3 linked regions of the Homo sapiens genome follow. The protein of the gene in region 2 purifies or fractionates together with the protein of the main gene of each other region. This does not show direct contact. Each region holds a gene or a part of one and is shown on either strand. Other genes may lie near its edges.

What was found.
Region 1: the proteins of RXFP2 (region 2) and OSBPL8 purify together in Homo sapiens (affinity purification with mass spectrometry; one large-scale study listed by BioGRID and IntAct). This does not show direct contact.
Region 3: the proteins of RXFP2 (region 2) and LIMK1 purify together in Homo sapiens (affinity purification with mass spectrometry; one large-scale study listed by BioGRID and IntAct). This does not show direct contact.

What each region holds. Positions count from the first base shown.
Region 1 is NC_000012.12:76,367,691-76,371,344, reverse strand, and holds part of OSBPL8 (oxysterol-binding protein-related protein 8), read left to right. Parts: intron 1-1,522; coding exon 1,523-1,708; intron 1,709-2,043; coding exon 2,044-2,131; intron 2,132-3,654. UniProt on the Homo sapiens protein: Lipid transporter involved in lipid countertransport between the endoplasmic reticulum and the plasma membrane: specifically exchanges phosphatidylserine with phosphatidylinositol 4-phosphate (PI4P), delivering phosphatidylserine to the plasma membrane in exchange for PI4P, which is degraded by the SAC1/SACM1L phosphatase in the endoplasmic reticulum.
Region 2 is NC_000013.11:31,738,208-31,742,359, forward strand, and holds the start of RXFP2 (relaxin receptor 2), read left to right. Parts: upstream 1-1,318; 5' UTR 1,319-1,405; coding exon 1,406-1,499; intron 1,500-4,152. UniProt on the Homo sapiens protein: Receptor for relaxin. The activity of this receptor is mediated by G proteins leading to stimulation of adenylate cyclase and an increase of cAMP. May also be a receptor for Leydig insulin-like peptide (INSL3).
Region 3 is NC_000007.14:74,114,682-74,118,335, forward strand, and holds part of LIMK1 (LIM domain kinase 1), read left to right. Parts: intron 1-1,120; coding exon 1,121-1,277; intron 1,278-3,654. UniProt on the Homo sapiens protein: Serine/threonine-protein kinase that plays an essential role in the regulation of actin filament dynamics. Acts downstream of several Rho family GTPase signal transduction pathways.

The sequences.
Region 1 (3,654 bases), on a different chromosome or scaffold from region 2:
GCAAAATAGTTTATCATTTGTGGAAGTGACAGTATTCTGTTTTTGTGTATATGAATGTCAAATATAATATAAATCGTCTTGCTTTTCTGTAGCTCAAAACTACTCATTTTTTTCTTTCTCAATTGTTCCAGCACCTTAAAAAAAAAGAAAGAAAGAACGTTTTTGTTTAAATAAGATTACAGGACTAATTAATGACTCTTAGTTTCTACCTGGCAACAGTTTTCTAACCTGATTTAAGCATTAGAACTCTAGGTAAAGGGAGTGGTGCAGAATCTACTTCTGTTCCATTCTCTGATACAAAAGTAAAGTTACTGGATGGACTGGCTTCTATAGGATTTATTAGTTGGGTAATAACTAAGGCTATCATTTCTGTTCTTAAGTCATGAACTTCTTGCTAGATGGCTTATATTTTTGAATCAGAAATATTGTATACACATTCCCTATTTTATTGTTGTTATATCTTTGTGTTAAGAGAAAGAGACTTATGTATAAGAGATATTTTGCTAGGCACTTAGTACTTATTATGCAACTTTGTCCTCCCTACATGTTTGCACATACATATCATTCTCTGTCATGGGAATTCAAGTCTGTGTACCTTCCCTTCTACACTCAAATTTGAGGTTGTCAAAGATGGAAGAATGTATATGTACCAGTTCTAAAAATTCTGTCTCAGCCATAACCATTTGATGTTCTTTTTCCAGAGATAAGCTTTGCCAAGGCATACATATGATAATTTGTGAGAGTATATAATTCAGCATATTTGAAGATGAGGAAATGAGACTTAGGATAAATAACTTTAAGTGCACCAGCTAAGAAGTGGCAGCTCTAGGACTTGACTCATGTCTATCTGATCCCAAAGCCTTTTCTGGTTTTAACATGCTGCCTTTCTAGATGGGTAGGATATAGATATACTTTTATTTAACAGAAGAAAGAACTAGTAGGGGAAATCATTTTACCTCAGTAGTCTTTTCTGTTAAACCAGTGGTTCTCAACACTAGCAATACATTAAAATATTTTGGGGAAACATTTAAAAAATATATCAATACTTGCGCCTGACCCCAGAGATTCTGATTATAAAAATTCTCTGATAATTCATGGATCCAAACTTCAGAAGCACTGCATTACATTAATGGATCTTTATGAAGCCAGTGAATCTTAAACAGTGTAAGACGCATCTAGGAAGCTTGCTAAAAGCGTAGATTCCTGAGCTTTACCTTCATTACATCCTATCATCTTGAGCCAGCAACACTTCAACACTTACTATCATGAGTTTAAGAGTCTATGTAGTAAGTTTCTCTTGCCAAGTAAAAAAAATTAGTCTCCACTTATGAACAGGTCTCTCTCTACTCAAGGGACTGGATTTATATCTTGACTCATTTCTAAGCCTATGAGCATAAGTGTTGTCAAAGCCAGAAATTCATGTGAGCATTATTTTCTCTACAAGGGATTTGAGGCCTATTCTATATAGATTTTATTTTCTGTTACATTTTTAATACTTTTAATATTTTCGCACATGTATTAGACTCTGGCAACGGGTAACTCGAGCCATAAATGCCAAAGACCAAACTGAAGCTACCCAAGAGAAGTATGTTTTGGAAGAAGCTCAAAGACAAGCTGCCAGGGATCGGAAAACAAAAAATGAAGAGTGGTCTTGCAAATTATTTGAACTTGATCCACTCACAGGAGAATGGCATTACAAGTTTGCAGAGTAAGTAACTTAAAATAGTTTATTTCAAACAATGTATTAGCATGGTTTGTTGCCTTTATTTCTAGAATATTTGTTGCTGGAGTAGTTTTTATTTAATTAAACCATGTATATTAGTGTGAGATTTTTAAACTTGGTTTTGCATTCATTATAAGCTTGACTCTATGATAGAAGTTAGCCTATAAAATAAGTTGAGGATCTGAAGATTAGGTATGGGGAAATCTCATTATTAGAACTATGTATATAATTATTAATAAAATTGGATCATAGAATAGAAAGTTTTAAAGTTCTTTGTTTAGTCATTGAGCAAATGGTTTTTTTTTTTTTCATTTATGTAGTACCCGACCATGGGACCCACTTAATGATATGATACAGTTTGAAAAAGATGGTGTTATTCAGACCAAAGTGAAACATCGTACTCCAATGGTATGTAATAAAAAACTAGGTACACTAGGTATATAAATCTGTTAAATCTTTAGTATCTATAGCAACCAACTAAAATTTGGTTTCAAAATTTAAAATTTTGGGTGAGCAAAATACGCAGCTCTGAACTCTTCTTACCCCAAAGAAACATCAGAAAACAAGCAAAAACTGTCAACTCAATTTGCCAGAACTCTGGAAAACAGTCAGAGGTGTTCAGCAACCAAGTGAACACTGGTCAAGAAAGTGCAAAGAGAGGAAAGCTTTGTGGCATTTTACCTGCCCTTGCCCCAGGTCCATCCCAGTGCAGTAGCAGTCTTGAAGAGCCCCTGCGTTGCCAGTGTAAGTCCCTAGTTCCAGAAGGAGCAGAGTGGACCTCATACACAATTGTGTATGTCTGTCCTAACCTGTCAGAATACTACCTGAAGGACTTACACAGGCACTCATCTCTGAGAAAATCAATAAAGACAAATTATTCAAGGGAGCCAAACAAATTCTGGAGCTGAAAAGTATAACAAAAATGAAAATTCACTAGAGGTATTCAAAAGCAGATATAAGCAAGCATAAGACAGGATCAGGAAACTTAGAGATAAGACCATAAAAATTATCCAGTCTGAGGAGGAGAAAGAAAAATGAATGAAGTGAGGTGAACAGAGCCTAAAGGACCCATGGGACACCATCAAGTGGGTTATCATTGCATTATGGGAGTTCCACAAAGAGAAGACAGAAAAATGAATGAAGAATATTTAAGGAAAGAAGACCCCCCAATCCCCAAATTTGGTGGAAGATATAAATCTACAAATTCAAGAAGCTCAACAAACTCCAAGTAGGATGATCTCAGAGAGACCCACACCACAACAAACTGTCAAAAGCCAAAGAGAGTCTTAAAATCAGCAGAGAGAAACAACTTATCACATACACTGGGGATCATCCATAGGATTAACAACCGATATCTTATAGAAACCATGGGGGCCAGAAGGCAATGAGATGACATATTTAAAGTGGTAGAAGCAAAAACTTGTCAATCAAGAATTCTGTATCTGGCAAAACTGTCATTCGAAAATGGGGGAGAAATTAAGACATTCCCAGATAAAAGCTGAGGGAGTTCATTACCACTAGACCTGCCCTACAAAAAAATGCTAAGGTAAATATGTAATAAAATGAAACTCAAAGCTGTATGAAGAAATAAAGATTTTTAGTAAATAGTTGGACAAATATAAAAGCTAGTGCTATTGTAATTTTAGTTTGTAAGTCCACTTTTTATTTCCTGCAGGACTTAAAAAATAAATGAATGAAAAATAATTTAATTACATATCTTTGTTATCAGACATACAATGTGTAAAGATATAGTTCATTACAACATAAAAGCAGAGAGGATGGAGCTGTATAGGAGGAAAGTTTTTATGTACTACTGAAGTTAAGTTGGTATCAACTCAAACTAGATTGTTGTAGAGGTAGGTGTAAATGTCATCCCCATAGTAACCACAAATGAAATATCTAAAAAAATACACACAAAAGAAAATGAGAAG
Region 2 (4,152 bases):
ATTTCAGTACCAGAAACTAGCATCCATCATCTCGACAGCAAAACACAAAACGTAAGAAAAACTAATCATTCCTTTAAGTGAAATAAGGCAATTTTTACCTAAAAAGACCTTGAGGTTAGTGAGGGAAAAAAAGATGCTTGAAATGTAAGAAAAGATCCTGAAGTATTTCTTTTCATCTTTATTCTCTCTGTTGCTTTTTCTTTTGATTTGAAAGATCAGATGAGACCACATATAAATATGTCTGGGAGGTGTCTTAGAGAACTTAACTCACTTCTTAAAAAGAGAAAAGAACTAAATACATTATGTGATAAATAAAGTATTTTTTATTGTACATTCTGTTTGAATCCTTGTTCTCTCAAAGGCTAGAATGAAAGAAAGAACAAGGAAAACCCCGTGTTTTATGATTTGTGACGATAATAGTCACCACAAGGTAGTTTTTTTCAGTGTTGTTAGGACACAGTTAACGACAACATATAAGAGAATCTGCATCGTTCAGTCACAAAATCTTCTCTTCAAATCAGAACTACAAACTGTATTCTAGATAGATATTTCCCTGTTAGTAAAATATAAACTCAGACATGGAAATTCTACATCTTTTTGGAGAAGTCTTAATGATTACACTAGGATCAACAGAATCCTACAACCAAAAGTCAATTTTTATACTTTTAACTTGTACTAACTATGCTGTTGAGAAAGCTGCTTTCAGGATGTAAGAACTAAATTATAATTAGTGTTTTCTAATAGGTGTGCAATACAGAGCTGGAAGCAAGAATAAAATTATTCACTTCAAGAAAAAGGAATATGATTATGCGGGAAGTATGTGAAGTGAAAATATTGTATGAATGTTTTACAGTAATTATTTAACACAATGCCATATATTTAAATTATCTTTTCATATGTCATTTGAAAACATTTAGGTACATTTGAATAGAAGTGGGTGTTCTTTGTGTATCTGTCAATAAGTAGTTTTTTACATTTGTTTATTGCATGAAAATATAATTGTAAAGGGTTTCATAGCCTATTCAGTGTAAGCCTATATCCTTCATATTTGAGAACTTCGATGTTTGGATTTAAACAGAGCAAATTGTACATGCTTTGGAGGAAAAAAATTTTTAAGTGATTAAAAAATATTTCTTATCAGATAATACCAAAGTCCTATTATACCTTCTTTTACACACCATAATGAATTAGTGATCAAGAACACAACTGTAGATTTAAACTAAAAGAAACAAAAAAGAAAGAACAAAAAAGACAGGCTGCATAGTGACAAGAATCCATCTCCCTTCATGCCAGTGAGGTTCTAGCTGTGAGCATGCTCAGAACATGGGAGGCACTGAACTTACTACATCAGAACTCCTGCTGAGGTATAAGAGGATACGTCTAATAACTCAATTGCTGTAAACCTATGATTGTTTTTCTGGTTTTTAAACATCTCTTCAGCCTCAGATTGATTACAATGTTCTTTCTACTTCATTTCATCGTTCTGATCAATGTCAAAGGTAAGGTTGCTACTTTCTCGTTTTAAATGAGTGCAATTCCCAAAAAATACATTTCTATGTAGTTCTATGGCAGTTGTAATAAATATATTGGGGTGTTTAAAAAAAAAACAGACATCAAATTTGCCTGGTATTTGTCATTATCTTTCATTGCTTGTAGTCCCACACAGCCTAGTAATTTTTAGATGCAACAAATTTTTCATGGAAACAAGCCTTTGTATGTTATTAAAGCTGTAGATAAAATATGTCAAAAAACAATGTTGACTATATCAATTAAAACATAGAAAACATTTTTGGCATTTGTTCTGAAAAGTGTGACAAATTAATAAACTAAAATTGTGTTTTGTGGAATTTCAACCTGTTGAAATATGCCCATAAAATTCAAGTAATTATTAGTAACTATCTTGCGTGAACATAATTAAACTGGGAACTCCAAAGCCACAGGCAGATCTAAAAAACAGTATCTGTCTCTAAGAGTAAACCTCTCTAAAATAAAGTTATTAAAAGTCTATACAAGTGCATTTACTTAGATAATTTTCTTTTGTTTTTAATTTGTGGAAATTTTTATTTCAGTCAAACTCTTAAGTTTCAAGTCAGTACCATTTTCATTGTAAAGCTCACCAAAAAATAAAACCTAAATCTTCACTTGTTTTTAAATAAAAAGATACGTTGTCAGCCTATACATTCATAAACAACCTATTAACCACACCCAAGATTTGCTGGGGTTTATTATTATTCAAAAATGTTTCTATTTTAATTTGTATTTTTTCTTAAAGAATTTTGATAAACCTCTGAGAATAAAGGTTAAAATTTGAAATTATTTTTATTTTCTGAGAAATTCGTTTTAGGTTTTTTAAATATTCAGTTTTATTAGGTGAATTCCAAGTGAATATTTTAAATCTTGAAATAAAATGCAATACTTATGAGGAATTATTTTAAAACTTCTAACAAACAAAAGATTTTTAAAAGGCTTAAAATATCTAAATTTTATTTTGAATTTAAAATAATACTAAAACTTTACTACAAATATTTAAAATCTATATCTCCATGCACCTAGCATGACTTTTATTTTATATTTTAATATCTCTTACATGAAAAGCTAAGGATTAACTAAGAAGAAACAATATATGAACTCACCTTGCATGCAGTACAGTTGCAACAAGCAGTCTATTTCTATATTTAAGGTCCTACTTCAGAAGTTCATGTTCTATCCACATTTGAATATTCAATTTTATACAATTTTAAGAATATACAGCTACAAAGCAGGTTCTTAAGACATGTCATAGAGCTCATCTGTGCCCTTAAAAAGTTCTTTAATGTACGGGACTATAACCACAGTTTAACCAATTTTACTATACTTTTGCTTTTATACATAATGCATTTAATTGATTTTGCTTAAACCGTTTATGAGATGAAAAACATCTATTACTAAAATAACATTTTGTGATTTACCATAATGTAAAGTCACCCTTTAAACTAAAAAAAAGTTCAATTAATAATTTTTGTTTGATTTTATTTCTAAGTAAAAGCCATATTTCAAACTCCTAGTACCAACCTAACAAATATTTATTGATTATAATCCTGGAAATTTTTATTTTCTAATTTTATATTACTTTTGACTACTAATTTAAACCTTTATGTTTAAAATGATTTCTTTTCAAAGCAAGACACATTAATCAATGCTTTGACATTTTATTCCTACTTATAAAAATAATAGAATTTGCTCTATAATTAGTAAAACTCTTTTCTTTTTCACAACAAAATTGTGGACAATTAAAACGGTAAGGCTTTTCATAGTAACCAAAGAAAGCTCATTTAGAGTTGCCTAAGAGTAAAGGTTGTCTTTTTAATTTAAATAATATTTGTGATAGACTCTTAGGCCAGATCTAAACAAAACATAAAATTAGAAATTATGTGATCGTCTTTTCTTCTCTGACCATCATCACTCTGGAGTGCCTAAGGAATGAGTGATTGCCTTAAGCTACAGGCACTAACAGACAACTATGCATAATGTATCTTATTATTATTACGTGTGTTTTATCATTAATTTATTCACTGTGTATCTCTGTTAACCAGCTTCAAACTACTTTTTAAAAAACATTTCTTAATGGACAAATTAGGAACCATATTACATATCAAAAACATGGGCTTATGTAGGAAATTAAAAGCATGAAGTATTGAGACTGCTACTTGGTAACTACCAATTGTGTTTTGTGGAATTTCAACCTGTTGAAATATGTCCATAAAATTCATGTAATTGTTAGTAACTATCTTGCGTTAACGTAATTAGACTGGGAACTCCAAAGCCACAGGCAGATCTAAAAACAGTATCTGTCTCTAAGAGTAAACATCTCTAAAATAAAGTTATTAAACATAACTTTAAACTTTTAAAAAACATTTCTTAATGGACAAATTAGGAACCATATTACAAATCAAAAACATGGGCTTATGTAAGAAAGTAAAAGCATGAAGCATTGAGGCTGCTACTTGGCAACTACCAATTGCTACTTAAATAATTTGCTTAACCTCCAAAATAGGTTAACCAAAACCGGGCCCGAACAGTATTTTGAGGGGAGCAGTGTTTGACTGCCCCCTAGTGGCCAGACTCAAGGCATGCCTGGCATGGTCCTTTCTTACGGATGTCAGTTTCACTTGG
Region 3 (3,654 bases), on a different chromosome or scaffold from region 2:
GACGTGGGCGGATCACGAGGTCAGGAGATCGAGACCATCCTGGCTAACACGGTGAAACCCCGTCTCTACTAAAAATACAAAAAATTAGCTGGGCATGGTGGCAGGCGCCTGTAGTCCCAGCTACTTGGGAGGCTGAGGCAGGAGAATGGCGTGAACCTGGGAGGCAGAGCTTGCAGTGAGCTGAGATCGTGCCACTGCACTTCAACCTGGGCAATAGAGCAAGACTCCAACTCAAAAAAAAAAAAAAAAAGATAAAATTGGGCCAGGTATGGTGGCTTACTCCTGTAATCCCAGCACTTTGAAAGGCTGAGGCAGGTGGACCACTTGAGGCCAGAAGTTGAAGACCAGTCTGGGCAACATAGCAAGACCCTATCTCAATCAGTCAATCAACCTAAATAAATAGTAAATCTGGTGGCATGCCAAGCACAGGACCTGGGTCTATAATCAAAATTCCTGTCTTGATGGGCACAGTGGCTCACACCTGTAATCCCAGCACTTTGGTAGGCCACAGTGGGTGGATCACCTGAGATCAGGAGTTCGAAACCTGCCTAGCCAAGTATGGTGAAACCCGTCTTTACTAAAAATACAAAAATTAGCCAGGCATGGTGGCAGGCGCCTGTAATCCCAGCTACTCGGGAGGGTGAGGCAGGAGAATCGCTTGAACCTGGGAGGCGGAGGTTGCAGTGAGCCGAGATCGCGCCACTGCGCTCCAGCCTGGGTGACAGAGCAAGACTCCGTCTGAAAAAAAAAACAAAAGAATTCCTGTCTTCTCTCCGAAACAAAGCAGCATCAGTGCCCCCGCAGGTGGGAGGGAGCGCTTGCAGGAGGGAGCAGTGGGTCCGCCACGACGGTCTGGGGAGCAGGTGGGGAGGGGGCAGAGGGTGCAGCGTGTGGTGGGAGGGAGGAAGCCACACTGCTATCTTCAGGTGCTTCCCGCAGCTCCATTTGCAAAGAGCGGATGGGTTTGGGGAAGGAAGGGGTCCCCACCCTGTGCCAATACAGCGTATCAGAGGTATGTTCTCTGGGCTGTCTACAGGTTGGCTTGGGGTCCTGGGGAGGGGCAGGCCAAGCGGGCAGTACTAGGATCGGGTCCCAGCATGACCCGGCTTCACCTTCCCAGAACAAGAATGTGGTGGTGGCTGACTTCGGGCTGGCGCGTCTCATGGTGGACGAGAAGACTCAGCCTGAGGGCCTGCGGAGCCTCAAGAAGCCAGACCGCAAGAAGCGCTACACCGTGGTGGGCAACCCCTACTGGATGGCACCTGAGATGATCAACGGTGAGTGGTTCAGCCCTGCCCATCATGGCCCTCACGGGAAGCCATGGGGGAGCCCAGGAGAGCTGTAACCTCCCAAGCCCCTGGCCCCTCCCAGCCTCCTTGGCTCTTCAGTTACCCTGTGGGTCCTGTTGCTCCTATAACACACTTAGTGGCAGCCAGGCACGGTGGCTCACGCCTGTAATCCCAGCACTTTGGGAGGCTGAGGTGAGTGGATCACCTGAGGTCAGTAGTTGGAGACCAGCCTAGCCAACATGGTGAAACCCCCATTCTTTACTAAAAATACAAAAATTAGCTGGGCATGGTGGTGGGTGTAATCCCAGTACTGTAGTACTGTAATCCCAGCTACTAGGGAAGCTGAGGCAGGAGAATCGCTTGAACCTGGGAGGCAGAGGTTGCAGTGAGCCGAGATCGCGCCATTGCACTCCAGCCTGGGTGACGAGCGAAACTCCATCTCAAAAAATAAATAAATAGAAGACACTTAGTGGCTTAAATAAATGATCATACAGTTCTGGAGTCTGAAGTCCAGCGTCAGCCTCACCGGGCTGAAATCAAGACGCCGGTAGGGTGAGCTCCTTCTGCAGGCTCCGGGGCACCTGTTTCCTGACCTTTTCTGGCTCGTGGAGGCTTCCTCATTCCTCCTGTTGCTGCCCCCTCCTCTGTCTTCAGGGCTGGCTGCAAAGCATCTTCTCTTCTCTGATCTCTGCATCCATCCCCGCATCTCTTTCCCTGGCTCTAACCTTCCTCCTTTTTTTTTTCTTTTTTAAAGAGGGTCTCGCTCTGTTACTCAGGCTGGAGTGCAGTGGTGCCACCATAGCTCACTGCAGCCTCAACCTTCTGGGCTCAAACTGTCATCCCACCCCAGCCTCCTGAATAGCTGGGACCACAGGCATGCAACACCACACCCAGCTAATTTTTTTATTTTTTATTTTTTATTTTTTTTTGAGACAGAGTCTCGCTGTGTCTCCCAGGCTAGAGTGCAGTGGCGTGATCTCAGCTCACTGCAAGCTCCGCCTCCTGGGTTCACGCCATTCTCCTGCCTCAGCCTCCCGAGTAGCTGGGACTACAGGCGCCCGCCAACACGCCTGGCTAATTTTTTGTATTTTTAGTAGAAACGGGGTTTCACCGTGTTAGCCAAGATGGTGTCGATCTCCTGACCTCGTGATCCGCCCGTCTCGGCCTCCCAAAGTGCTGGGATTACAGGCGTGAGCCACCGCGCCTGGCCAATTTTTTAAATTTTTAATAGAGACGGGGGTATCACTATGTTGCCCAGGCTGGTCTCAAACTCCTGGCTTCAGGCGATCCTCCTGCCTTGACCTTTCAAAGTGCTGGGATTCCAGGCATGAGCCACCATGGCCCTCCATCCTTCTGATAGGGACCCTTACGGTGACATTGGGCCCACCTGGATAATCCAAAAGCAGCCCTCCATCTCAAGACCCTCAACTTAATCCCATCTGCAGAGTCCGATGGAAGGTGGGACGTATACAAGTCCCAGGGATCAGGACGCAGTCATCTTTGGGGATCATAGTTCTGCCTCCCACAGGGTCTGCTTCCCTCAGTCCATTTCTTTGCTGTCAATGGTCCTATATATGCCCAGATTATAGGTTATAAAGTCCTTCTACAAGCAGGTGACACATGAACACAGGTTCAGGGCAGGCAGACCCCAGCCATCACCTCATCATAGTTAACCTAGTTAAATTAGCCTGGCATGTGGCGTGGTGCCTAATGCCTGTGGTCCCAGCTACTCAGGAAGCCAAAGCGGGAGATTTACTTGAGCCAAGGAGATCAAGGCTGCAGTGAGCTATGATCATACCACTGCCTTCTAGCCTGGGCAACGGAGTGAGACCCTGTCTCAAGAAAACAAAAAATAGGCCAGGCACAGTGGCTCACACCTGTAATTCCAGCACTTTGGGAGGCTGAAGCAGGCGGATTGCTTGAGGCCAGGAGTTCGAGACCAGCCTGGCCAACATGGTGAAACGCTGTCTCTACTGAAAATACAAAAATTACCCGGGTGTGGTGGCACAGCTACTAGGGAGGCTGAGGCAGGAGAATCACTTGAACCCAGGAGCAGAGGTTACATTGGGCCAAGATTGCACCACTGCACTCCAGCCTGGGCAACAGAGGAAGACTGTGTCTCAAAAAGAAAAAAAAAAAAACCTTCCTGTAATCCCAGCACTTTGGGAGGCTGAGGTGGGCGGATCACGAGGTCAAGAGATTGAGACCATCCTGGTCAACATGATGAAACCCCATCTCTACTAAAAATACAAAAAAATTAGCTGGGCGTGGTTGCACGCGTCTGTAGTCCCAGCTACCCGGGAGGCTGAGGCAGGAGAATGATGTGAACCCAGGAGGCGGAGCTTGCAGTGAGCCGAGATCGCAC